7 linked regions of the Homo sapiens genome follow. The protein of the gene in region 2 interacts with the protein of the main gene of each other region in a biochemical or structural test. Each region holds a gene or a part of one and is shown on either strand. Other genes may lie near its edges.

What was found.
Region 1: the proteins of ZBTB16 (region 2) and HBEGF form a complex in vitro, tested with the Homo sapiens proteins (2 studies listed by BioGRID).
Region 3: the proteins of ZBTB16 (region 2) and HDAC7 form a complex in vitro, tested with the Homo sapiens proteins (one study listed by BioGRID).
Region 4: the proteins of ZBTB16 (region 2) and RARA form a complex in vitro, tested with the Homo sapiens proteins (one study listed by BioGRID).
Region 5: of the proteins of ZBTB16 (region 2) and CASP3, one has a biochemical effect on the other in vitro, tested with the Homo sapiens proteins (one study listed by BioGRID).
Region 6: the proteins of ZBTB16 (region 2) and SUMO1 form a complex in vitro, tested with the Homo sapiens proteins (one study listed by BioGRID).
Region 7: the proteins of ZBTB16 (region 2) and SIN3B form a complex in vitro, tested with the Homo sapiens proteins (one study listed by BioGRID).

Annotation. Positions count from the first base shown.
Region 1 is NC_000005.10:140,336,604-140,340,103, reverse strand, and holds part of HBEGF (proheparin-binding EGF-like growth factor precursor), read left to right. Parts: intron 1-3,500. UniProt on the Homo sapiens protein: Growth factor that mediates its effects via EGFR, ERBB2 and ERBB4. Required for normal cardiac valve formation and normal heart function. Promotes smooth muscle cell proliferation. May be involved in macrophage-mediated cellular proliferation.
Region 2 is NC_000011.10:114,248,211-114,251,710, reverse strand, and holds part of ZBTB16 (zinc finger and BTB domain-containing protein 16), read right to left. Parts: intron 1,386-3,500; coding exon 1,156-1,385; 3' UTR 1-1,155. UniProt on the Homo sapiens protein: Acts as a transcriptional repressor. Transcriptional repression may be mediated through recruitment of histone deacetylases to target promoters. May play a role in myeloid maturation and in the development and/or maintenance of other differentiated tissues.
Region 3 is NC_000012.12:47,785,563-47,788,903, forward strand, and holds part of HDAC7 (histone deacetylase 7), read right to left. Parts: intron 2,603-3,341; coding exon 2,483-2,602; intron 2,248-2,482; coding exon 2,150-2,247; intron 1,142-2,149; coding exon 1,023-1,141; intron 324-1,022; coding exon 190-323; intron 1-189. UniProt on the Homo sapiens protein: Responsible for the deacetylation of lysine residues on the N-terminal part of the core histones (H2A, H2B, H3 and H4).
Region 4 is NC_000017.11:40,307,971-40,311,979, reverse strand, and holds the start of RARA (retinoic acid receptor alpha), read right to left. Parts: upstream 2,801-4,009; 5' UTR 2,694-2,800; intron 1-2,693. UniProt on the Homo sapiens protein: Receptor for retinoic acid. Retinoic acid receptors bind as heterodimers to their target response elements in response to their ligands, all-trans or 9-cis retinoic acid, and regulate gene expression in various biological processes.
Region 5 is NC_000004.12:184,642,948-184,646,447, forward strand, and holds part of CASP3 (caspase-3 isoform a preproprotein), read right to left. Parts: intron 1,776-3,500; exon of another isoform or gene 1,596-1,775; coding exon of another isoform or gene 1,584-1,595; intron 1-1,583. UniProt on the Homo sapiens protein: Thiol protease that acts as a major effector caspase involved in the execution phase of apoptosis. Following cleavage and activation by initiator caspases (CASP8, CASP9 and/or CASP10), mediates execution of apoptosis by catalyzing cleavage of many proteins.
Region 6 is NC_000002.12:202,228,598-202,232,097, forward strand, and holds part of SUMO1 (small ubiquitin-related modifier 1 isoform a precursor), read right to left. Parts: intron 3,448-3,500; exon of another isoform or gene 3,051-3,447; intron 1-3,050. UniProt on the Homo sapiens protein: Ubiquitin-like protein that can be covalently attached to proteins as a monomer or a lysine-linked polymer.
Region 7 is NC_000019.10:16,870,898-16,874,397, reverse strand, and holds part of SIN3B (paired amphipathic helix protein Sin3b), read right to left. Parts: intron 3,170-3,500; coding exon 3,000-3,169; intron 1-2,999.

The sequences.
Region 1 (3,500 bases), on a different chromosome or scaffold from region 2:
TGTTGGCCAGGCTGGTCTTGAACTCCTAACCTCAAGTAATCAGCCTGCCTTGGACTCCCAAAGTGCTGGGATTACAGGCGTGGGCCACCACTTCCTGGGCAGATTTTCAGGGGGTTGATTGCATGTCTGGACTGGCCCCCTACTGCCTCCTGCCCTTGCTACTCAGGGCAGAAAGCAGCAAGAAGACAGAAATCCTGGTTTGGGGGAATGTGACATCTGTGCACGTTCATCTGGGGATCTTTGTGGCTCTTGTTTGACTCCAGACCCAGGAACCACTAGCCAGGGTGTGTCCAGGCTGCTGTGGTGAGCCTGAGGCTAGCTGGCTTCCTAAACTAGCCCTCTGCAGCCACCATGAACAGGAAAACCCTTTTTGTGTCACCAGCCAAAAGTTGCCCTCAAAGAGTAGTTTCTGCTGGGCACAGTGGCTCACACCTGTAATCACAGCACTTTGGGAGGCCGAGGCACGTGGGTCGCCTGAGGTCAGGAGTTCGAGACCAGCCTGGCCAACATAGAGAAACCCCCGTCTCTACTAAAAATACAAAAATTAGCTGGGTGTTGTGGCGGGCGCCTGTAATCTCAGCTACTAGAGAGGCTGAGGCAGGAGAATCTCTCAAACCCAGGAGGCAGAACTTGCAGTGAGCCGAGATAGTGCCATTGCACTCCAGCCTAGGCAACAAGAGCAAAACTCCATCTCAAAAAAATAATAATAATAAATAAATAAAAGAGTAGTTTCCTGGGATTCCTGACTAGTTGCCTACCCAGAAATTGGCTGCAGAGTTTCCTGTGGCTGGAGGAAAACTGGGGACACTTGGGCTGAGGAGGACTCAGAGCTGGAGGAGAGACAGGCTAGGGGGCTCTACTTGGCCTCACTGCCCAGGTGCTAAGAAGGAATGGTGATCCCGCTTCTCTTGTCTCCATCTGACTTGGGTGCCCCATTCCTCAGGCCATGGGCAGTAACCTCTGGAGTCTGATTATGTAATAACTCACACAATGTGGGACTTGGCCTTTATAAAGCCCTTTCATTTGTATTACCTCATTTTATCTTTTCACAATACTCTAGTGAAGTAGGCATTTCTTATCCCTGTGTTTTACATGAGGAAACCAATGTTTAGAAAGGTAACGTGACTTGCCCAAAATTACCTGGCTAGAAATAGCAGCAGAACCAGTCTGGAACTCATGCACTCAGTCTCCTCCATCCAGACGTGTCCCCTCCACCTCCTGGGGTAAAGGTGGAGAAATCCAGTTTGGAAGATGTCTCTGGACCCTAGAGGGTTCTTGCATCTGTTGTAATACAAGTTCTGAAATGGGTCACAGACGTGGGTGGGAAGAATGTGTCCTAGTCTGGTGGGTGGCTGGCTCTGGACAAGACACAAAATTTTGCCCCTACCCTGGGATGCTTGGAATGTACTCATCCCCCCTCCTTCTCTGGGGAAGCCAGGAGTTGTCTGCAAAGGGAGGGGGAGGTAGGTAATATTAGGATGTTTACATTATTATCCTTTTGACTCAGGGTGGGGGTGGAGGGATTATGTAACTGAATTGCGGGACTCTGAGGCCAAACTTTATTTCTATCTTCTGAGTAACTACCTGTGGAGTTTGAATGATGGACTGGAAGTGAAAAACAGACTCAACTTCAGCTTCCCTCCTCCCAGGAAAGCAAAGTCTCTGAAGTCATCCAGACTGCTGTTGAATCCTGGCTCTACGACTCACTAGCTTTGTAACCTTGGGCGAGGTGTTTAACAAAAGCTAAGCCTCAGTCCATCTTTAAAATGGGGCTAGTAACTTCTCCTTCACAGAGCTGGCTTTAAATGAAATAATTCTTGTAAAGCAGTTAGCACAAAGTACTTGGCTCATGGTAAGCCTTCAATGATTGCTAATTATTATTCTTTATTATTCAAGTTATGAGTAATAAATAATAATAACATAGTCAGAGAGAAGGGTCAGACTGCCCCCCAGGAGCCTATCAGATATGCTTCCTTGGAGTTACCTGCGCTATCCTGCATTGTTCAAAGTGGAAGGAATGATGAATTTGGAATCTGCCAAGACTTGTTCCTAGTCTTAGCCCTGCTGCTTCCTAGTTGTGCCACTTTTGGTGAATCACTTAATTTCTCTGACCCTTAATCTTAGCTTTTCCATCTGTAATATGGGGTTGTACCTGCCTACCAGAATGTTAGGAGGCTCAGTTGAGCTAGTAGATAAGGCTAGTGGCTTGTGAATGGTAAACTGCTGTGCACAAGTGATTTTCCAGGGGTGCTTGTGCAAGTGTCCTCTATGTCCTGGCAGGATAGGGGTCGCTTTTAGGCCTACATGGGCTGATGGGACAGATACATGGAGAGGCTGGGCAAGGAACTGTGGACTGTGCTATACGTATAGTGGGCCTGACCTACATTTATCCTGCTGTGAGGTGGTTTCTCGAAGTACCCAGGAGGAACTAGGGCAGGGAGAGGCTCAGGGCAGGAAAGCAAGAATGCAGTACCACCCAGCCTGGCCCCTCTGCCACTGCTGGTTGTGGACAAGTCTGTCTCTTGGAGCTTCCCTGGTGCTCTGTCCGCAGGAAGAAGGGATTCCTTGTTCTGAGGTACCAGAGAAAGCACCTCCTTCCCAGAGAAAGCACAGCTCAGAAAAGAGGGCCACCAGGTTCTTGGTGCTTCCTTCAGCAGCTGGTGGTCTAAAGTCCTCAGGCAGACAGTGCCACTGTGCCCCCTGGCTGGATGGTAGGCAGTTGTCAGGTGTGAGTGGGCAGCACACTGAGCTCAGAGTCAGACAATCTACATCTACATCTTCATTTCTGTCTTACTGTGTGACCTTGGGAAAACCACTCCACCTTTCTGTAAAACAGGGCTCCTACTTATATCAAAGGATCTCTGGGATGCTCAGATAAAGGAAAGGATGTGAATGTGCTTCTTCAACTGTAAGCACGTCTGAGTCTTTCTAAGAGCTTCAAGGAAATGCTTTGTGTTAGAAAAGGCAGTTGCCAGCCCGGTGTGGTGGCTCATGCCTGTAATCCTTGCACATTGGGAGGCAGAGGCGGGTGGATCACCTGAGGTCAGGAGTTTGAGACCAGCCTAGTTAACATGGTGAAACTCCGTCTCTTCTAAAAAATTACAAAAATTAGCTGGGCGTGGTGGCGGGCACCTGTAATCCCAGCTACTTGGGAGGCTGGGGCAGGAGAATCACTTGAATCCGGAGGTAGGGGTTGCAGTGAGCCAAGATTGCGCCACTGCACTCCAGCCTGGGAGACAGAGCAAGACTCTGTCTCAAAAAAAAAAAAAAAAAAAGAAAAAGAAAAAGAAAAGGCAGTTGCCATGTGATTTATTTCTTGAGTGAGAAGAGCCAAGGGATTGTTTCTGACAGTCTTCCATGCTCTGGCAGGGCAGCTGGGCAGAAAGATGTTTCTTGATTTGTTTGGTTTGTCCTGTGATGAAAGAGGCCTGGTAGCTCAGCGTGCAGAGGCCAAAGGCCAGAGTTGAGCTCCCAAGTTGGGCCCTGCACCCAGGGGGAGC
Region 2 (3,500 bases):
AATTCTGTGCGACTCTCTCTGGACCTGGCTTTTCTTGCTGAGCTCACTACATCTGGGGTCCCCAGTGTGACTCAACAACTTTCTCCCTTGCCCAGCTTCCCTCATCCCACGGGCTGGGTGTCCTCTTTTCCAGGTGTGGGACCCCTCTAGAGAAAGACATCCACAACCTACCCTCGGAACCTCAGCCCATTCATGGATTCCTTCTCCTGGGACTGAAGTAGGGCTACGTAGGGACTGTGGTTTGTTTGGTAGGATATTAGGTATTTAGTTGTGATGCTTTTCCATTTTGGAAGCAGCGCAGCAGGAATCTTGCTCACGATGGTGCTGGACTAGGGTGGGGTATTGGATTTGTTTTGTGTTCTCAGAAGGCTGAGGGTAGGAGGGACCCTGAAGTCAGAGGCAGCTATCCCACTAGGGAACCGGAGAAGGATGGAGACACCGCCAGGTCCCTGAGGGGCTGGGACTCCCCTGGGACTTGGAGGACAGGAGTCAAGGGGAGGCTGGGAACAAAGAGCTGGAGGAGGGGCAGGGGTCCTGAGGCTCTCAGAGACCACCGGGGGACACCCAGATGTGGCAAAGCAGAGGAAAGCAGCAGGTGGGCTGAGTGGTGGGAAGAGAAACAGAGCCCTTCTCCTCCCCAGTCAGCCGCCAGCAAACTAGAGCTGCCATTTTGAGCAGCTAGTGACCCAGCCCAGACCCATCAGCAGGGGAGCGCCCTTCTGGCTCACCTCCTCCCTCCCTTCATCTCCTGGGGGTCTTGGTGGAGGAAGGCCGGCACAGACCGTGTGGCTCTGACCAGAGGACCTCTCACCTGCTTTCTAGCCTCCATTTCTGGACACATAAAAGAAGGTCTGGGTGAAGGAAGGAGAAAAATGTGCCACCATTTGAGTGAACAAAATACCCAACCCCATCCCAGAAAATCAGGCAAACCTCCAGCCGGGAGAGGAGGGTGGAGGCCCCCAGAGGAGGGGCAGTGGCTTGGCATCCAGGTCATCTGGAGCCCAGAGAGAATCCAAGGCCAAAAAGCTACCAGGTTTCCTTTTCCTTCTGTTTTTTTTTTTCTTTTCCTTTTTTATTTGTCATAGTCCTTCCTTCATCTCACTCCAACTCTTCTTTCCTGGCTCCCCGCTCGGCTCCACCGCCGCGGGCCTCCCTTCACACATAGCACAGGTAGAGGTACGTCTTCTCTATCCTCCAGTCGGGCGGGATCTCCTCGGGCTTGTGGCCCTTCATGTGCTTCTGCATGGAGGAGAGGCTGGGGCAGTACTCTGTGCAGATGGTGCACTGGTAGGGCGAGGCGCCGTTGTGCGTTCTCAGGTGCTTGATCATGGCCGAGTAGTCCCGGGAGCGCTGGTGGCAGAGCTTACACTCAAAGGGCTTCTCACCTGAGGGCGGAGGGACAGGGCAGGAGAAAGTGAGGACAGACAGAAGGCGGTGAGGGCACCATGTCACCCTCAGGCGTGCCAGGGAAGCTGGGTTCCTCCAGCTGGGCTTGCTCCAACAGAACTTTCTGGGACAATGAAGGCACCACCCAAGACGGCAGCCACCAGTCACACATGGCTATGAATGAGGCTGGTGCGACTGCAGCTCTACAGTTTTCTAATTTTATTTCATTGTAACTAATTTAAATAGCTACATGTAGCTAGTTGACTACTGGATTGCCCAGCTCCTTGTCTTACTATTCTTAACTCTCCCAAGGCCACAGTCTTTTCCCTTTCTAATTAAGAAAATGGGTGTCTAGAAAGAGAAAGGCCCCAAAGTCCTCAGGAATGGCTCTTCAAGCCACAGTTCCGTCCAGAGAGCAGGTGGATCGAGACCTTTCAGGGCTACAGATGGTGGGGAGCAGGGGTGGGGGGAAATTGAGGGAACCCAGTCCTTCAAATATGCTGCACCTGGGGACACCTATCCTGCTAAAGCTCTCTTTTTTTTTTTTTTTTTTGAGACGGAGTCTCGCTGTGTCGCCCAGGCCAGACTGCGGACTGCAGTGGCGCAATCTCGGCTCACTGCAAGCTCCGCTTCCCGGGTTCACGCCATTCTCCTGCCTCAGCCTCCCGAGTAGCTGGGACTACAGGCGCCTGCCACCGCGCCCGGCTAATTTTTTGTATTTTTAGTAGAGACGGGGTTTCACCTTGTTAGCCAGGATGGTCTCGATCTCCTGACCTCAAGATCCACCCGCCTCGGCCTCCCAAAGTGCTGGGATTACAGGCGTGAGCCACCGCGCCCGGCCTTTTTTTTTTTTTTTTTTTTTTTTTTGAGATGGAGTCTCACTCTGTTACCCAGGCTGGAATGCAGTGGTGCAATCTCAGCTCACTGCAACCTCTGCCTCCCGGGTTCAAGTGATTGTCCTGCCTCAGCCTCCCAAGTAGCTGGGATCACAGGTGCCGCCACCATGCCCGGCTAATTTTTGTATTTTTAGTACAGACAGGGTTTCACCATGTTGGCCGGGCTGGACTTGAACTCCTGACTTCAAGTGATCTGCCTGCCTCGGCCTCCCAAAGTCCTGGGATTATAGGCATGAGCTCCCCCACCCGGCCTATCCTGCTAAAACCGCTAAGACCTTGCCCTGGACCCTGCCTCCCTCCTGAGGCTGGAATTGGGGGTGGGGTGGGATGGGAGGGATAAAGAACCTGGGAGTGCACAGCCACACCCTAGCGTTCTATACCCCAACTTTCCTTCCATAGAGTCCCCTAGAGCTGAGCAGAGGATGTAAGGGAACCTTGTTTCAATACAGTAATTAACTGGCCAGCCATCTCGCTATCAATACTCCCCCGCGCACAGGCCCCAGCAAATAATGAAGTAATGAACAGCCAAAGTGATCTAACTATCGACCAGCTATTTACAATAGTCACTGCCAATACAGTTAATGATCCACCTGCCAGGTCACATCCCTGACAAGGGGCTAAGGAAACCCCAGGGCTCTGGGAAATCCTCTGGGCCACTATAGTTGTCATCAACGGACACCCAACCCTCTCCTTGTGGGCTCAAACTGGGACACGAAAAACGAGCTCTGACAACACATAGCTCTGCTTACTGCTCCTTCTGTCCACCCTTCCCCTCCAAGGGCAACGTACTCTCCTCTAAGCCAGCAGGACCTGCCTGAAGCCACCTCTCCCCCTTCCTCTGGACAGGACAGCTGTCTCCCCTGATCAGAGGGGGCGTCTTTGTTTTCCAGCTTCCACCACCTCTCACCCTTCTGTAAATCAACCTTCCCCACAACCAGCAGTGTGCTGGTGGTAAATGTTTCATGACTGGCTTTCCAAAAAGCCCTGGTTTGTAGCATCTGCTGATTGCTATGATGTGAATACTCCTACAGTGGCCAATTTTAAGCAACTAAGGTGGTGTCACTGAACTTGAAGTTGTGAAGAAATGTGAAAAATTAGCTTTCACAAGCAAGCTCCAGGACTTCACTGCCCCCAACTTGGGAAACTGTGGAAGACCCTTCACTTGTTTTGTCTTTTGACCTCAGGGAAAACAGTGGCCCACATTTCTTTTTCCAATAC
Region 3 (3,341 bases), on a different chromosome or scaffold from region 2:
GCACACTCTACCTAGGCCAGGAGATGCTGCCTGGACCTAACTTGGAACAGAGGCTTCCGCTTCGCCTACCTTGTTTCAGGCTTGGCCACTCCCACCCTGTCCCATCCCATCTGCCTGCTCCTTGGGTAGTCCTGAGAGCCGGGCTTACCTGCCTGACAGAAGCATGGATGGGGGAGGGAGACGGCTCACCCTGTTACCCAGAAGAGCAGCCACACAGGCCTCAGAGGCGTCACAGATGGCTGTGAGGTCATGGCCACCCTCCAAGGCCAGCACCACTGCGCCTCCTGCCAGGTTCATCAGTTGCTGCGTCATGTATCCAAAACCTAGAGGTTGGGAGGGGAGAAATGGGAGGGGCGGGAGTGGAGAGGTGACCCTGTTCTCTACCCCTGTGGCTTCCCTGCTTGCTTCCTCCCTAATAAAGAATGACTCACATGTATCAATCACTATTTCCAAAGTGCTTTCACATTGAATGTCGTACAAAACCTACTAGTATGCTTCACTCAAGGCTCAGGGAGGTTAAGGGCCTTGGGAAAGGCCCCACAGCTAGTAAGTGGCAGCAAGGTAGGACCTGAACTTGGGTCATTGACTCTAGCCTGTGTCTTTTTCACTGAGCTACACCCTCTCTTCTTTCTGTACTCTGGGCCCTGTGGCCACCCTCTATTCTGAGAGTGCTGCTTCTCTCTCCCCTTCCTCTGGAGGAGCTGCCAGCCCACCTGGAATCAACCCAGCTGTGGTGGGGAGTCCCACGGCTGAGCTTCCTGCCTACTGGACTTAAGTCCCCATGGGTATGACCTGGTCAAGCCCTCCGTGGTGAACCGGCCTGGTCCTGAGAAAGGGCTTGGGCTGTGCTCGGCTAGGAGATCCCGGGGAATTTCAGGACCAGCTGCCATACTCCAGTCCTCAGGCTGAAAGCCCTGGGCTGGCCACTGCCACCTTCCCTTTCTGACTTGGGAGTGCCTCCCAACTCCCCGCACCGCCTGGCTCTCTGTCCCTAACGTCCCCCTCAGCTGAGGCTCCCTTACATTTGGCAGAAACATGGTAGCCACCCAGTGGGGCCGGGTGACCCTCAGCAGCATCAAATCCAGCAGACACCAGGACTAGGTCTGGAGAGAACTCTCGGGCGATGGGCATCACGACTATCCTGTGAGGTCACAAGAAGTGGCGATCATCGTACTGTGCAGGGTTGCCAGGGGCGGTCCTGCCAACTTTGCGGTGGGGCACCCTGTTCTTAGGACTCCAAGGCTCCCAGTGCCCCAGCACAACTGGCAGATTTCTCTGACCTCCTTGACCTTGGCTGGCCACCCATGTCCCTGGCACACACAGCCTAAGGACTCAGCCCCCTAGGGGACTTAACTAGCAAGAGGCAGAAAGGAGCCAAGGATGGAGCACCAGAGGGAATGAAAGAGGAGTGTGTGTGACCATGTGTGTGTGCATGTGTGTGTGTGCATGCAAGCATCTGTGGGGTGCAGTGGCCGGAGCCACAGGGAAAGGGTAATCTCACAGCCTTGCGGAGATGGACTCTGGTCACAAAGCTTCAGGGACTACAAGTGCTCAGTCCTTTGGACTGAGTTGACCACACCCAGCTACTCACTACTTGAGAGCTGAGTAGGGGACAACTAGGTCCTCTGAGGTTCTGCGCCACCTGGCTACATTCTCTCATCCTCTCCCTCTTCCAGGCCCCCCCCCAGCTGCCTTCCTCTACCCCTGATCCAACTCTGGGGCCTGCTTGGGTGTTCTTCATAGCCCTGGGCTCTGAGAAGACTCCAGGAACTCCAGCCCAGGGCTCTCGTAGAATTAGCTGTCATGGAGATAACTCCAGAAAAGTGTTTGAAGATCCATTTCCAGAATTCTCTTTTCCCAAATAGAGTGGCAGCCTTCTCTGACTAAATGTGCCAGCTCTGCTCACTCCACCACCCACCTGCCAGCAATCAGTTTGACATTGGCTCTCGGTAATGTATGCCTTTGCAAAGCACCCTTTGACTTTTGCATTCTTCTCTCTGTTTGTCCTATTCTCACTGGCGTTCACCTACAATGTCTAGGAACTGGTGGGGACAGGCTGACAATCCAACTGATCACCTCCCCCCTGGTGCTCTTGGGAGAAGGGACAGGAGAGGGTGGACTTGCCCCTCTGGGCCCCCAGAGCACGTACCTGAAAGCAGCCAGGTACTCAGGATCCCCCATGGGGGGGTCCAGACCTCCAGCCCAGGCCACATTGACATTGAAGCCCTCACCGCTGCCAGCCCCTACCTGGAAAACAGGAGGCAAGAGAGACATGAGGACAGCAGAGTCCCAGAAGGGGAACACCAGTTTGTTAGAGCTGCCAGCCCAGCTCATCCAGCCTCCCCATTTCCAGGTGGGGAAGTTTAGGATCAGAGAGGCTCAGCAGTCTGCCCAGGATCACACAGCTCGTCATGACAGAGGCAGAGTAAGTGTCAGGAGGAGGTCAATGAGGCTGGAAGATGTGGCCCTGACATGCGGTTACCTCATCCACAGCCCCACTCCCCGGGAAGAAGTTGCCGTCGTCATGGCGATGCAGGGAGATGTAGAGCACACTGGGGTCTTGGTAGAAGGTTTGCTGGGTGCCGTTGCCATGGTGCACGTCCTGTGTAGGGAGACGGGCAGCGATTAGGGAAGGCAGAGAGATGGGGGCCAGGACAGGTTAGAAGGGTTTCAAGGTCAGTGGCCATTCTGAGGTCAGGACCCTAGACTGGGATCAGGAACCTGGGGTTCCTAAAGCCACACGGTCGAGTGGCCCCACGTAATCCACTGCCCGGCTCTGAACCTCGGCCTCTCTGTGCTGGACAGGGCTGGCTGTAATATGAGATCCTGAAGGAGAGGAGGTGTCCCAATCTCAGGCCAGCCCACCTGAGAGAGTAACTGTGTGGACATGGGGTTAGTGGCAAGGAGAGGGAAGGGTTCAGGGTTACACATATCAGGAACCACTCTGTCTTGCATAAAGTCATGAAGTTATGAGGAGATCAGAAACCAAGCTCGGTTACAGAGGGGCAGGTACACGAGGCCCAGCCCCATCCCTCGTAGGGAGAGCTGGGCCCTACACTCGACTCACAGGACCATGCGGGAACTCAAGTGTGCAAAGGTCCTCCACCGCTCTCAACTTCTGCTTAGAAATGTCTCTTACACAGCTGTCAGTGCAGAAGGGACATAGCTTAGCAGTTAAACGCAAGCACTCTAGAGCTAACCCGCCTGGGTTCAAATCCATCTCATGACTTACGAATGACTGTGTGTGAGTTACTTAATCTCTCTGTGCTCACTTTCATCTGTAAAGTGGGTTATAGTCAGGATTAAATCCATCATGTGTAAAACCATCAGTGTCTGGATGT
Region 4 (4,009 bases), on a different chromosome or scaffold from region 2:
AAAAATGAGAGCAGGAGATGTAGGCTTCTGTAAAGAGAGAAGCCTGGAGGCAAGAATAGGCCATGCCTGCCAGGCTGGGCATGTGCTGCCCCCAAGCTGAGTCAGAGGCTAGGAGGGAGAAGCTGGGGTGCTACAGTGCCAGAGGCTACTGTGCCCCCACCCCTGTCCCACCTGGGATTCCTGACACCTCCCAGCCCTAGGGGAAGGCCCTCCCCACAAAGGAGGAAGGAAACCAGCTAAGCGACTCTCTGGAGCCCTGCAGGGGAGCCCTGCACCACAGGCAGGGAAACCCAGGAGTCCTGGCGCCCAGCCCAGAGACAGTGAAATATCTTGGAGGGGAGGAAACAGCCCAGATTGAGGCAGACATGTGGCACCCCCAGAAGCTCCCAGATGTGACCTACTGGCCAAAGGGGCTAGATGAGGCAAAGTGAAACATTTCTGAACAAGAAGAGAGAAGAAAGTGGGGCTATGGGAATGGGGTGGCGGGGGTCAGCCTGGCTCATCGCTGTCCTTTCCTCCTTGTCAGAGTCAGTGACACTGACATTAAGGTCATCGAATATCAACCAGGTCCTGAGGACCTTGGTGTGTTTCCTCCTCTCCTAGTCTCCAGACCCCAGCCTGTTCATTCCTGAGCTTCCTCTGGCACCCCTTCCTTGGGGCCAAGCCAAGTAAGAAATCAGCAGGCCCAAGGTGGTGCTTGGGAGGCCGGGGCAGTGCCAGGGGCAGTCCTCATACCATCCTCCCACTGGCTTCCCTCCTGCCTGCTCTTAGCCGCCACACATATCTCAGCTGTCGAATCCGATTAGGGCTCCTGCCCAGTGAGCCAGACAAGGAGGCCACTGGGCAGGGGAGAGAGAGACAAGGACGCCAAGCAGGGATGGCAGAAGGAAGGTGGAGACATGGCTCAGGGGAGCAAGTATGGGGCCCCAGAGGAAGAAATGCCTGGTGGAGAGATCTGTACTCTGTGACCACAGGTGCTCTGGTAACAGCTACAACCTGCATTAGGGGAATTCTGCAGTAACCGGGGCAATAGCCCTGCCTAGTTCCTCCATCCCCCAGATGGGCAAAGGATGGGGGAAGAAAACTAAAGGCGGAGAGATTGACCTAGATTTAGGAAGAGGATTCCATCCTAGATTCCCCCAGCCATTACTACCGTTTGCAGTGAGCTTTACGATACATTGTCTCTGTGGTTTTAGTGGCAATGTCCCTGCTTGCTACTGATAGCCATTTTTACAAATGGAGAAACTAAGGCTTAGCAAAGGGGAAGACCTATATAAACACATATAGTTAAGTAACCAGTCTAAGTCTCCAGTTCAGGCCTCTGATTCCTAGTTCACTGCTCACAGTCAGAATCTCTACTTTCCTTGTTGGATCAAGACCAGAACGAAGTCTGAAGCCAATTCATTATCCACCCTGTCCTCTAAAACCAACCTTTAGGGGACCCGGGGAGCCATGGAAGAATGCAGAGCACACCCCACACCTAGACAGAGCTACCAGATGGGGACATGCCACCCATTCCTATCATACATTGATTGCTAGAGGAGTTCCCTCAGTGTGACCAGTCTCTTCTATCACCCCCCTCCCCAGTCTACTACCCCCAGAAGCAAGACACACACTCACACATGGTAAGTCAGACAAGGTGTACACCCTTCCTGTAAACCCACCAAACCAGAATGACACGCCCTAGATCTTCAGAGAGCAGGGCCTGTCTGCCCACCACAGGAGAGAAAAATAAGCCACTGTAAACAGTAGGTGCCATCTAGCCCTCTCCCAGAGAGCCTGTAGCGGGGCAGAAGCTTGGGGACCTTGTAGCTCTAGAGAAACACCAGGAGCCTGAGATTCTGAAAGCCAAGAAGCTCAGGGAGCTGGCAAGGCTGGGTGACCTCCTCAATCTGGTCCACACCCCCTTCCCTAGCCATCTGGACTGAGCCTGTTCTGGCCTGGGCCACACTCTGGTATCCCTCCCCTTCAATGCATGCAGCCACCTCTATCCAAAGCTTCTAGATCTTACAACCACATTGTCCCTACACACACACACACACAGGTGGGGTCGGGGGGCTTCTGCAGCAGGTGTTGAAATGTTGACATGGATGGGGGCTCTAAGCTGAAAGAACTTTCCTAGAGGAAAAGCTCACCAAAATGCTCACAACCTCCACTACCCTCTAGCAAAGCCTTTAGCCACCCAAGTGTGAGATGAACCTGGAAGGGGACATTAGTTCCCCTACAAGGTGTGTAGGGAGTAGGGGCAAAGTCCTGAGCTCTTTGGGTGAGGAAGCAAGAAAGAAATCCCTTGGGAAAGCTCAGGTCCCTCTCTGGCTCTCTCCTCTCTCTGTTACCTCAGCACTTGCCAATTCTCCAGTCTAGGTGAGGTGGGGGAAGGGGTATTAGGCAATACCGCAAAGGAGGGTGCAAGGGCGTGGGGCCTGGGCAGACCTTCCCCCTACTCCCCACTCTTATCTAGAGAACGGGAACTGCCTCAGGAGAAATGCAGGAAGGGTGCTGGAGGGTGCAGAGGGCTCTGAGCTTTCAGACACCCCACTGTTCCCAGGCTCCCACCTCCCAGGACTACAGTGAGCGACGGGAGAGGAGGGATGGGGAAAGCCAGAACTGGCGAGAAGGAAATGGCTAGATCAGAAGCAGAGGCCGGGGTCAAAGGCGGCCAAAGAATTGGGAAGGGGTGTGCATGGTCCTACCTGCTCAGGTGTGTGCTGGCAGGGGGCCGATGGGGTTCCCAGGAGAACCGGGGAAGCCCTCTCAGCTCGATTCAGGATTCCCCCCTGCTTCTGGGTTAGGCTGCTGCAAGAGGCACGGGTTCCCGTTGGGTCCTAAAGCCCACTCGCCAACTAGAAGGCTCTCCCCGCCCTCTTCCACCAGCCAGCCCCGACTGGGTCAGCGGGCGCAGAGCGAAGGACTGATGGGGGAGAAGTAACCCACTGGAAGAAAGATGGGCGTCTGGTCATCGGCTGGGGACAGGAACAGTTCCCTGTCTCAAATACACAGCATATGGATAACTCGAGGATAGGATGACCTGAAACAGGAGAAAATAGACATTTCTTCCTGCCTGCCCTGAGCAGATGGATTTAGGTTTTGGTGCTGGAGGTGGGGTTAAGATCTCTTTCCCTGCCACTCCTGCTAAGGCATTCAGCTAGAGATTTTGGAAAGGGAGCATTCATTTTGGTTGGGCGCTCACTTCTGTCCTCTTCCTCATGGACTGCAGGAGTCCCTTCATCCCTCCCAATTATTCCCAAGGACCTAGGAGGCCATAGAGGGTGAAAAAAGATTTTCAGCATGTAAAAAGTGCAGGCTCACTTAGATGGCAGCTGGAAACAGGGGAAACATGTAGGACCAATGTATGTGTATCTGGGAATGTGTGGGGTCTGCAAATACACATATATAGGCAAGAGTATAAACAGGTGGGGTTAGGGAAGGAGAAAAAAACAAAAAAGAACTTTGGGTTACACCTATTACTGGAAATGGTAATTGTCAGTGGAAGAACAGGACGTAGAACCTAGAGGTCAACTAGTGCCCCTACCCAGCCCTCAGTAATGTCCCGAATCTTTATGACCAGAATAAACAAGTTAAAGAGAGAATATTTTCCTAGATACCATTTAGGATAAATATAGGGGCAGAGGGACCTCAATACAACAGATCAACTTCAAGGTCACTGATTCAGTTTAGTATAGCCAGTCTTCTCAGTAGCTCAAAAGGGAGAATTCAGGTTTGGTGGGCTAGATGGGCAAGAGAAAGCTGGATAAGAATTCTGAAGTTGTGGATTGAGAACATTTTGCAAGGAGAGTTGCACATATCTCTAGCAGCAGAGCAGGGAAAACGTCATGAGGGGAAGGGCCAGAGGAAGTCAGCGACAGACTTGAGGGGAGAGGGCATGGCCTCTCCCTAGAAGGGGAGAAGACACCAGCAATGCCTCCACCTCTGTCTTGCAGGAAGAACTGAGTAAAGGAGCTGGACTAAGGATGGAAGGCCCCAGGGTGGAGTCCATGGGGTGAGTTTA
Region 5 (3,500 bases), on a different chromosome or scaffold from region 2:
CCTTGTGACTGGTAATGGAAACTTTAAATAGTGACCAGCTTTTCAGAGTACTGTAATATACAAATACTATACAAATACTATAGTGGACTTCATTAACTTCATTATTAGTATCTGAACAACATACATTGCCTCAGTTATCAGTTTATTTTGATATACTTCTAAAAATTTATATGATGGTAGATGAAATCCTTACAGCATCAGACATGCGCACATTTGCTCTCTACTTGTCATCATCCGCTTTTTCCACATGAAAGCACCAAATCCACACTCCTGGGAGCAGAGCTTTGGTTCCCGCAAAACTCACTGAAGTGCTGCTTAGCATGACATCACCTCCATTAGCTAGTGCCCAGCAGGGTACAAATTATTCTGAGGATGGTGATCTCATCTTAGAAGGATAAAAAAATCACATCCTAAGGGAAATAGTCACTGCCTTAAATGAAAACAGAAATTTTGCCTGTAATCCCAGCACTTTGGGAGGCCGAGGCGGGCGGATCACAAGTTCGGGAGATCAAGACCATCCTGGCTAACACGGTGAAACCCCGTCTCTACTAAAAATATAAAAAATTAGCCAGGCGTGGTGGTGGGTGCCTGTAGTCCCAGCTACTCAGGAGGCTGAGGCAGGAGAATGGCGTGAACCCGGGAGGTGGAGCTTGCCGTGAGCCGAGATCGCGCCACTGCACTCCAGCCTGGGCGACAGAGTGAGACTCCGTCTCAAAAAAAAAAAAAAAAAAAAAAGAAAACAGAAATTTTGGTTTTTAGAACATTCTTATTTGACAAAATATAAATAGGAAAAATAATTGTGATTTAAAAGATTTATCCTGGCATAGCAATGGACTTAACATGAATTGTTTCTTACTGGGCTGATGTGTGTGTAATTCTGTTCAATTCAGGATGCTGCTGCTAAGAAAGGAAATTTCTGAACACATATGTTTATGGCAAAGTTCTCAGTAGACCAACTGATATTACTTAGAAACCTGGAACTCAGGTCTCAGAATCACTTGTCTAGTTCCTGGATCCCTTAACACTTGCCACCAACGCTGTAACAGTCAGGTCTTCAAACACAAAAAAATATTGTCAGTATAAATTTACTTCACTCTAAAATAGATACTTAGACATTTCAAGCTGTGTTTTCCTACACAAGTAAAAAACTAGAATGTTCTCCCTATTTACATGGTGGTTAGCCAACTACTCATTACAATACTGAAGTAAAGCAGACTACAACATCTATAGCATTAAGGCAGAGAAATAAAAATTAATTTCTAAAGTGAAATTTCTATATTAAGCTATAAAGTATTAACAATTTGAAACAACCTGTTATTAAAGAGTGAATGTGTGAAAGTGTGCCTGTGGTGGGGAATTCAAAAGGAGATGTTAAATTAGGATTGCCAGTCTCTAAAACTGAAAGAAAAAATACATTATTTTACAATAGGATTTAAAATATTTGATAAAGATTTCTCAGGGACAAATACTATAGTGGACTTCATTAACTTCATTATTAGTATCTGAACAACATATATTTTCTCAGTTATCAGTTTATTTTGATATACTTTAAAAATTTATATGATGGTAAAGGAAATCCTTACAGCATCAGACATGCGCACATTTGCTCTCTACTTGTCATCATCCGCTTTTTCCACATGAAAGCACCAAATCCACACTCCTGGGAGCAGAGCTTTGGTTCCCGCAAAACTCACTGAAGTGCTGCTTAGCATGACATCACCTCCATTAGCTAGTGCCCAGCGGGGTACAAATTATTCTGAGGATGGTGATCTCATCTTAGAAAGATAAAAAATCATATCCTAAAGGAAACAGTCACTGCCTTAAATGAAAACATTTATGTGCCAGTCTCTAAAACTGGCAATCCTAATTTAAATTTTAAATCTCTAAAATTCTTAATCAGCTCATTAGGCTGTTGCTGGTTCCTGTCCTACAGGGAAACTCTGAGGTAAGAAATAAAATCTGGTCTCTGCCCTAAGGGTTTTTAAATCTCAAAGTGAGACCTAAAAAACAACTGTTAGTTTCTGAATCATGTCCATGAATGTAAATGCTTTTAAGAAACATTTACTAGTAAAGATTTACCAAAACAGTAGCCAAAGGATGTGGCGTGAGAGCTGTGTGCAAAGCGCTGCGTGATGACTGTCCCTCTTAATGCTGGCTCATACAGGCTAGGTACTGAACTCAAAGTACAAGCGTATTTTCGTGAGTCCTCCCAATGACACTCTGAGGCATAAGGATCCCCACTGCAGAGTTCAGGTGACTGAGGCTAAGAGAAGTTAATGAACTTTAAAGTCGCACAGCCAAGATTCAAACTAGGATCTTCCCAACTCAAGAGGGCAGACTCCCACTATTCTGTAGACAGCTTAGTACTATATAGGAATGATAACACTTAACTTCAGGGAAGGAAACAAAAATCCATAATCTCAGAAGCTTTAAATAAGACAAAGAAAATAAATAACATGATAGAAAGTTACTGCAGAGATAACAAAATAACATAATGCACTGAATTCTAATGAATGAAAAAATGGCAAAAATGACTATGGCATTTCTGATGCGACTAGGTAGTTTACTTTTGTGTTTTCTTTCCTTTTTTAAAAAAATTTAACAAACTTCGCATGTGGCATTCAATTTACTTCTAAAGTGAAATAGGCCAGACACAGTGGCTCGCGCCTGTAATCCCAGCACTTTGGGAGGCCAAGGTGGGAGGAATGGTTGAGATCATGTGTTCAAGACCAGTCTGGGCAACACAGAGAGACCCCATCTCTATAACAAAGTAAAAACAAGTAGCCTGGCATGGTGGCACACACCTGTAGTCCCAGCTACTCAGGAGGCTGAGGCAAGAGGATTACTTGAGCATAGGAATTGGAGGCTGCAGTGAGCTATGATCGCACCACTGCACTTGAGCTTGGGTGACACAGCAAGGCTGTTTCTAAAAATAATAATAATAAAAGTAAAATAACTGGTTTCATGTTCAGCGTTAGGTATATGTCATTAAAACATATTCCCTGTATCTCTGTGTTCCTCCAAAGGAAAAGTGAAGCCTGTCCAGCAGGACTTCTGGGGAGATTACACTTCTGTCAAACAACTTGAAAAATATCAGGATTATATTTATTACCTGTCAGAGAGGACAAAGTCTCAAAAGCAGTCACGTTTCCAGATTTAGCAAATGAAACAGAAAGAACATCTGTTTCACAATAGTTTGGACAAGAAAAGACTTCAGTTGTGATGTACCAGAGGTTTTATCAAAATCTTTTCCCATCTGGTCTCTGAATTCATTTGAGTACGTATAAGAATTATCAAACTGGCGATTGTAACTGGGCCTGGTGAAGTCAATCTTTTAATATTTGTTATGTAATTAAGGTAAAAATATGAGAACAGGAATGTAAAATCAAATACAGAATACATTGAAATAAGTTCCATTGTACTATACAAACAAACCATCCTTTCCTTTCCTCTGGCAAGGGCCACGTGACCAGGAAGACAGTACAGAGCACTCTCCACTA
Region 6 (3,500 bases), on a different chromosome or scaffold from region 2:
AAAAATACAAAAAATTAGCTGGGCGTGGTGGTGGGCGCCTGTAGTCCCAGCTACTTGGGAGGCTAAGGCAGGAGAATGGCGTGAACCCAGGAGGTGGAGCTTGCAGTGAGCCGAGATCACGCCAATGCATTCCAGCCTGGGCAACAGAGCAAGACTGTCTCGGAAAAAAAAAAAAAAAGTCACTCCAAGCTTCAAATTCTATATATATCAATTTATTTTATTTCCTAATGAAGAAAGCTCAAAAAGGGTTAAACAGGATAATTCTAATGCACCATTAAAAGGGAAAAACCGAGAATTACAGTGAAGTCACTTCCCTTATACTTAAATAATTTACCACAATTCCATTTTATTTATTTATTTATTTTGAGTCTCGCTGTGTCACCCAGGCTGGAGTGCAGTGGCACGATCTCGGCTCACTGCAAACTCCGCCTCCTCAGTGGCTGGGACTACAGGCGCACACCACCACACCCAGCTAAATTTTGTATTTTTTCATAGAGACAGGGTTTCACCATGTTGCCCAGGCTGGTCTCGAACTCTGGTGCTCAGGCAATCCGCCTGCCTCGGCCTCCCAAGTGCTGGGATTACAGGAGTAAGCCACTGCACTGGGCCCACGATTCTAAAAACACAAAAATATATGTATATTTTCATCTTCATGATGCATATGTTCAAACTTAGTAAGACGGTACTAGAGATTTAGAACAGAACTGACCAGATTTAACTGTATAACTTCAAGGTTTAGGTCAAAGCTGTCAACACAATGGGCCTCTGAATATTTACATTCAACCCTGAATGGTAGTTAAACACTAGTCATGCACAGATAGCTTCTCAGGAACTCAAAACTATAACTAAAAATTTTACTGGTTGTGTAAACCTTACCCTTTGAGTCTAGACCTATGCTAAGCCTAGAACAAACCAGTTTGATTGCATCCAAAAGTACTAGCAAACAGACTTGGAAGTATGACAGACATTGTTAATTACCTATCTGGTATCTATTTTCCCTTTCTTCCTTACAAAGGGAAACCTAAATTTACCCAGATAAAAAACGTATTTCCCAGCTTCTTTTATACCCATTTTGGCCAAAGAGATATAAAGTGAACATACTTTTTCCCTTTTCTCCTGTCTGGAACACAAAGTAGCTTTTTTGTGCCCACAAGTAGACAAGCACCAGAGTGAAAGACTGCTGTTAAGGATGGAGAAGAAAATAATATGAAGGAACTGTGGAGCTACCACATCAGCCTTGAGCTACTTTTGTCTACATTTCTTGTTTTATGAGAAAAAAAAAATTGTTTAACCTACAATAAATCAAACTTTCTGTTATTCAGCCCAAAAGTAATCCTGAAATAGAAGGTGCTATAAAAGGTATAAGTTTGGCTCATATTAAAAACAGGTGCTAGAAAATTCCTCAATGGGCATCAAAAGCAGAATGAATAAGTAAATTGAGTGTACTGCATTCCACACAATGGAAAGCCACACAGCAATGAGATGTAATAACATACAACTATATACAATAATAATGAACAAACCTCTAAACAGTGCCGGGCAAAAGAACCAACACACAGAGATACATACTGTATGATTTCACTTATAAAATGTTATGCTGTATAAAAACAGACAAAACTATTCTACTTGTTAAGTCAATACAGCAGTTCTTCATCTGAGTGCTGGTTGCATGGATGTGTTCAGTTTGTGAAAGTTCGGCAAACCAAACACTCTTGTGCACTTTTTTGTATGTATATTACTCTTTGGTAAAACCTTTAAAAATAACTGGCCCTAGATATTGAGAACAACCAGCCCAGCAAACAAAACTCCACCCTTCCTTCCTTCCTTCAGGTCTTTTCCTTCAGATCCTCATTAGCTCAGAAAAGGCAACTGAATGCAAAAATAGCCAAAAAATATAACCGATACAACGTATCTTTAAGTAAACATAGTCACGTTGCAGGAATTATCCAGATTTTAAACTGTAAAACTAAGGTGCTCAATAACAGTATCTGTGTGAACTTTTCCCCATGACTCTTTTAAAAAGAAACAGAATATCAGCCGGGATGGCGCAGTGGCTCATGCCTGTAATCCCAGCACTTTGGGAGGCCAAGGCAGTCAGATCACCTGAGGTCGGGAGTTCGAGACCGGCCTGACCAACATGGAGAAGCCCCATCTTTACTTAAAAAAAAAAAAAAAAAAAAAAATGAAATTAGCCGGGCGCAGTGGCTCACGCCTGTAATCCCAGCACTTTGGGAGGCCGAGGCAGGCGGATCACTAAGTCAGGAGATCAAGACCATCCTGGCTAACGCAGTGAAACCCCGTCTCTACTAAAAATAAAAAAACTTAGCCAGGCGTGGTGGTGCGTGCCTGTAATCCCAGCTACTCAGGAGGCTGAGGCAGGAGAAATGCTTGAACCCAGGAGGCAGAGGTTGCAGTGAGCAGAGATCACGCCATTGCGCTCCAGCTAGGACTCTGTCTCAAAAAAAAAAAAAAAATTAGCTGGGCATGGTGGCACATGCCTGTAATCCCAGCTACTCGGGAGGCTGTGGCAGGAGAATCGCTTGAACCCAGGCGGCAGAGGTTGTGGTGAGCCAAGATGGCGCCATCGCATTCCAACCTAGGCAACAAGAGCGAAACTGTCTCAAAAAAAATTAATTAATTAAATTAATTAAGTAGAATATCAGCATTATATATATATACTTTTTTAAATCACAACTTCAGGGAATTCCAAAATGGAATGCTAAAGATGTCTTAATAAAAAATTAACTGGGCCAGGCACCGTGGCTCATGCCTGTAATCCCTGCATTTTGCAAGGCCAAGGCAGGCGGATCACCTGAGGTCAAGAGTTCAGGACCAGCCTAGCCAACATGGTGAAATCCCATCTCTACAAAGATCAAAAATTAGTTGAGCATGATTGCAGGTGCCTGTAATCCCAGCTACTTGGGAGGCTGAGGAGGGAGACTCACTTGAACCTGGGAGGCGGAGGTTGCAGCGAGTCGAGATGGCACCACTGCACTCCAGACTGGGTGACAGAGCGAGACTCCGTCTCAAAAAAAAAAGATTATCGGCCTCTCTTCCTTTATCTGCCATCATGGTGTGTGCTTGACTCCACTTCTCGCCATGTCTTCTCACAAGACTTTCAGGGTTAAGTGATTCCTGGCCAAGAAACAAAAGCAAAATTGACCCATTCCCCAGTGGATTCGGATGAAAACTGGTAATAAAATCAGGTAAAACTCCAAAAGGAGCCATTGGAGAAGAACCAAGCTGGGTCTATAAGGCATTGCATGATACAACATACTTATGCTGTCTGAAGGTCACAATCATGTTACCATATCGAGCTGAAAATGTCACCACTATCTAGAGAGTTGGACATGTTTTATTGGGAATATATTTTTTTCTCTGAATCTGTTATGAACGTGTTGGTTGGCTAGGTTCAGTAATAAATATGTGAGACCTTTCATTTTTTAAAAAAAAAATCATCCTTAACAATCCCAGTGTCCTGGAAGAAGTAAATGATTCAA
Region 7 (3,500 bases), on a different chromosome or scaffold from region 2:
ACCAGACCAAACCAGACCAAACCAAAACCAAACCAGACCAGACCAGGCCAGACCAAAACTAGACCAGACCAGACCAGACCAAAACTAGACCAGACCAGACCTGAACAAAACAGACCAGGCCAGACCAGCAAACCCTGCCCGGGTGTGAGAAACACACAGAAAAGACACGGAAAAATATGTTCCAAAGCAAACCCAGGAATGAGCTGAAGGTGGCCTGAGTGCAGGCTGTTCCTTTCCCCTAAATGCTTGGCTGTAAATACACTGCTACTCCTTTTACCTTTGCACTGAAGAAGGAAGGAATGGAAACAGCAGGGATCGTGGGGCAGACAGGGCTGTGTGAATCACCCGCCTGCACAGCCCAGGCCCTGGTCAGGGGACCACACTCCTTGGGGGTTCCATGTGCAGCTTTGTTGAATGGATACAATAACACCTGGACACGCATAGGTTTCAGACAGTACCTGGCACACAGCAAGTGCCCACTGAATGCCAACTGCTACTGCTAAAAAACAGCAATGCTAATTTTTAAGAAAAAGGGAGGCAGAGTCCAGACATGGCCTCGAGGCAGGTTACAAACAGTGTGGAGGGGCCCGCAGTGAGCACCTGGCCCAGGGAGATGCAGCTGGGGTGTGGTGCAGCCACAGCTGGGACAGCAGGGCAGCATGTGGCTCTCACTACAGCTCCAGCCAGACAGCCCCATTTTCATTGCTTTGTTTTTAACAGGTTCTAGAGGAGTTGTTTATGGAAGGGGGGGATTTTTTTAAAGCATTAATCAATGCTTTCCATAAACCATCTGGTCCAATCTCCTGGTGTCACAAGCAAGGTTGCTGTCCCCGAAGCCATGGCCCATGAGGGGTGCCCAGCCTGGGGGGGGGGGGAGGGGACAGACTGCCAGCCCCCTGGCGTCCCCTGCGTCACTTCCCCAACACCATGTGCTGGGCCCTGGGTGTCCTCTCTCCAGGCTGCCCCGTGCGTGTTTCCCTCACCTGGGGAGTGGCCACTGCTGTGGATGGTGATGGGCAGGGACCCATTTCGGGCACACGGAGGGAAAGTGGAGGGGGCTGAAGCGAAGGTGTCAGAACGCAGCTATGGGTTTCACTAAGTCCTCATGGCCAGACACAGAAATCCTCCCAGTCACCAACAAGGCAGACGCAACGGAAACAGGCGCAAACACCGTGGATAGCTTTCCATGAGAAAAGATGTCCCAACGGCCATGAAAGGACAGGGCCCCAGCCACATTTGCCATCAGGGAAATGCAACGTGAGCCCACCGAGATTTGAACTCCCAGCTGATGGAGAGACGCCCCTGAGCCCCAGGGAGGACACAGAGTGCGGCCTCGCACAGCACTGGTACGAGTGACCCAGGAAACGGAAAGTTGCCATCAGCGGGACACACCTCTCTGTGCCTTACCCCAAGGGCAGCAGCAGAAATGTACATAGACGGCCACCGCAGACACACCCACGGGGCACCGCCCATGCCTGTCCTCAGGAGACAGGTGGACGGAATCGGGGGTCGTTCCTCGGAATCCTTGGCCGGTTCATCTCAACACAGGAATCTCACAGAATGACGCTCCCAGGATGCGGCTGGGCGCTGTGTGCTGCTGTTAACACACAGCTCGAGGCCAGGGATCTACCTCTCTGTAGAAATCAGGGTTGTGATGCCGGTGCGGTGGCTCACGCCTGTAATCCCAGCACTTTAGGAGGCCAAGGGAGGCGGATCACCTGAGGTCAGGAGTTCGAGACCAGCCTGCCCAACATGGTGAAACCCCCTCTCTACTAAAAATACAAAAATTAGCCAGGCGTGGTGGTGCGCACCTGTAATCTCAGCTACTCAGGAGGCTGAGGCAGGAGAATTGCTTGAAACCAGGAGGCAGAGGTTGCTGTGAGCAGAGATTGTGCCATTGTACTCCAGCCTGGGAGACAAGAGCAAAACTCTGTCTCAAAAAAAAAAAAAGAAGAAGAAGAAAAAGAAATCAGGGTTGTGGGTGTCCATGGGTGGCAGGTGGCTGGGTGGGGACACAGGGGCAGGGGTTCTGTTGATGAAAAGCCCATCCATCTGCCCCCTTCAAATTTGGGGACTTTTCTGCTTGGGTATTTTAGCTCCATTAAGCAGTCTTTAAAACCTGGAAGGAAACGTCCTGTCTGAAATGCTTCTCGTGGCTGTGTCTGGGTGGGAGAGTAATGGCATTATTTTTTTTCCAGCTTTTTTTCCACTTTATGATGAACAGCCTTACTTGGTGACCAGGAAATGGAGGTCACCATGAACAATGATTCTGGCAGAAACCAGGCAGGACCCATGTCCTGGAACCACACCCAGCTCGTCTGGGACGTCTGCTGTTTATATTTACGTGACCAGTTTCCTTGTGTTGACATTCAGTGGGGCCTGGGTTTTTGCTACTACTAAAACCAACGCAGATGAAATCACTATTCCCACCCTCCCTCAGGATAAGTGGGTTAAGGTTTTTTCCATGTTGTCAATTTAACCTCAAGAAAGGTTTGTCAACAGGGACACGGAACAAAAACTTGTACACAAATGTTCAGAGCAGCATTGCTCACAATCTCTATAAGGCAGCCACAGCCCAGATGTCCACCAAGAGATAGAAACAAAACGTAGCTACCCACGCAATGGAGTATTACAGAGCCATAAAAAGGAATGAAGCACGAGGGAAATACAGAGGCAGAAAGCAGTTGACTGGATGTCAGGGGCTCGGGGCAGGGGAATGGGCAGTGGCTGCTGATGGGGATGGGGTCTCCTTTTGGAAAGATGAAATGTTCTGGAACTAGACAGAGGTGGTGGTTGCACAATATTGTGAATGTACCAAATGTTACCAAACTGTACACTTCAAAATGGTTAATTTTACGTTATGCGAATTTTGTCTCAATTAAGAAAAAACAGGATAGGTTTGCTGTGCTGACCACGGGCCCCCTCCCGAGCGGGGAGTGAAATGATGGTAGAGCCATTTCCGCCGTCCTCAGGGCCGGCCCCACCCCGGCCCGGCTCACCTGCCGCGCAATGTTCTGCACCAGCTTGTCCATGGTGAAGCCCACGTAGGCATGGATGGTGAACATCTCGCGTAGGGTGTCCTCGTACTGCGTGGGGTCGATGCTGCCCTCCAGCAGGCTCCGCACCATGTCCAGGAAGGCCGGGTAGTACTCCTCCAGCTCCACTTCACCTGCGGAGACACACCGCCTCATCCATATGCCTCCTGGAGAGCGCAAAGTCACGCAGGCCAAACTCTGGCATGACAGAGCCCCAACAAATGCCCCCATGGGGCCCAACAGCCCTCACCTGCCACCCCTGGGGCAAATGTGGGAATCACCAGGAAACCCGAGTAGCTGGTGTTCACTGCCACCCTCCGAGGCTGCCTAATCTGGCCGGCAACCCAGGGATGGCAGCGAGAATGCTGTGGAGGCCAGGCATGGTGGCCCATGCCTGTAATCCCAGCACTTGGGGAGGCTGAGGCAGGCGGATCACCTGAGTTCAGGAGTTTGAGACCAGGTTGG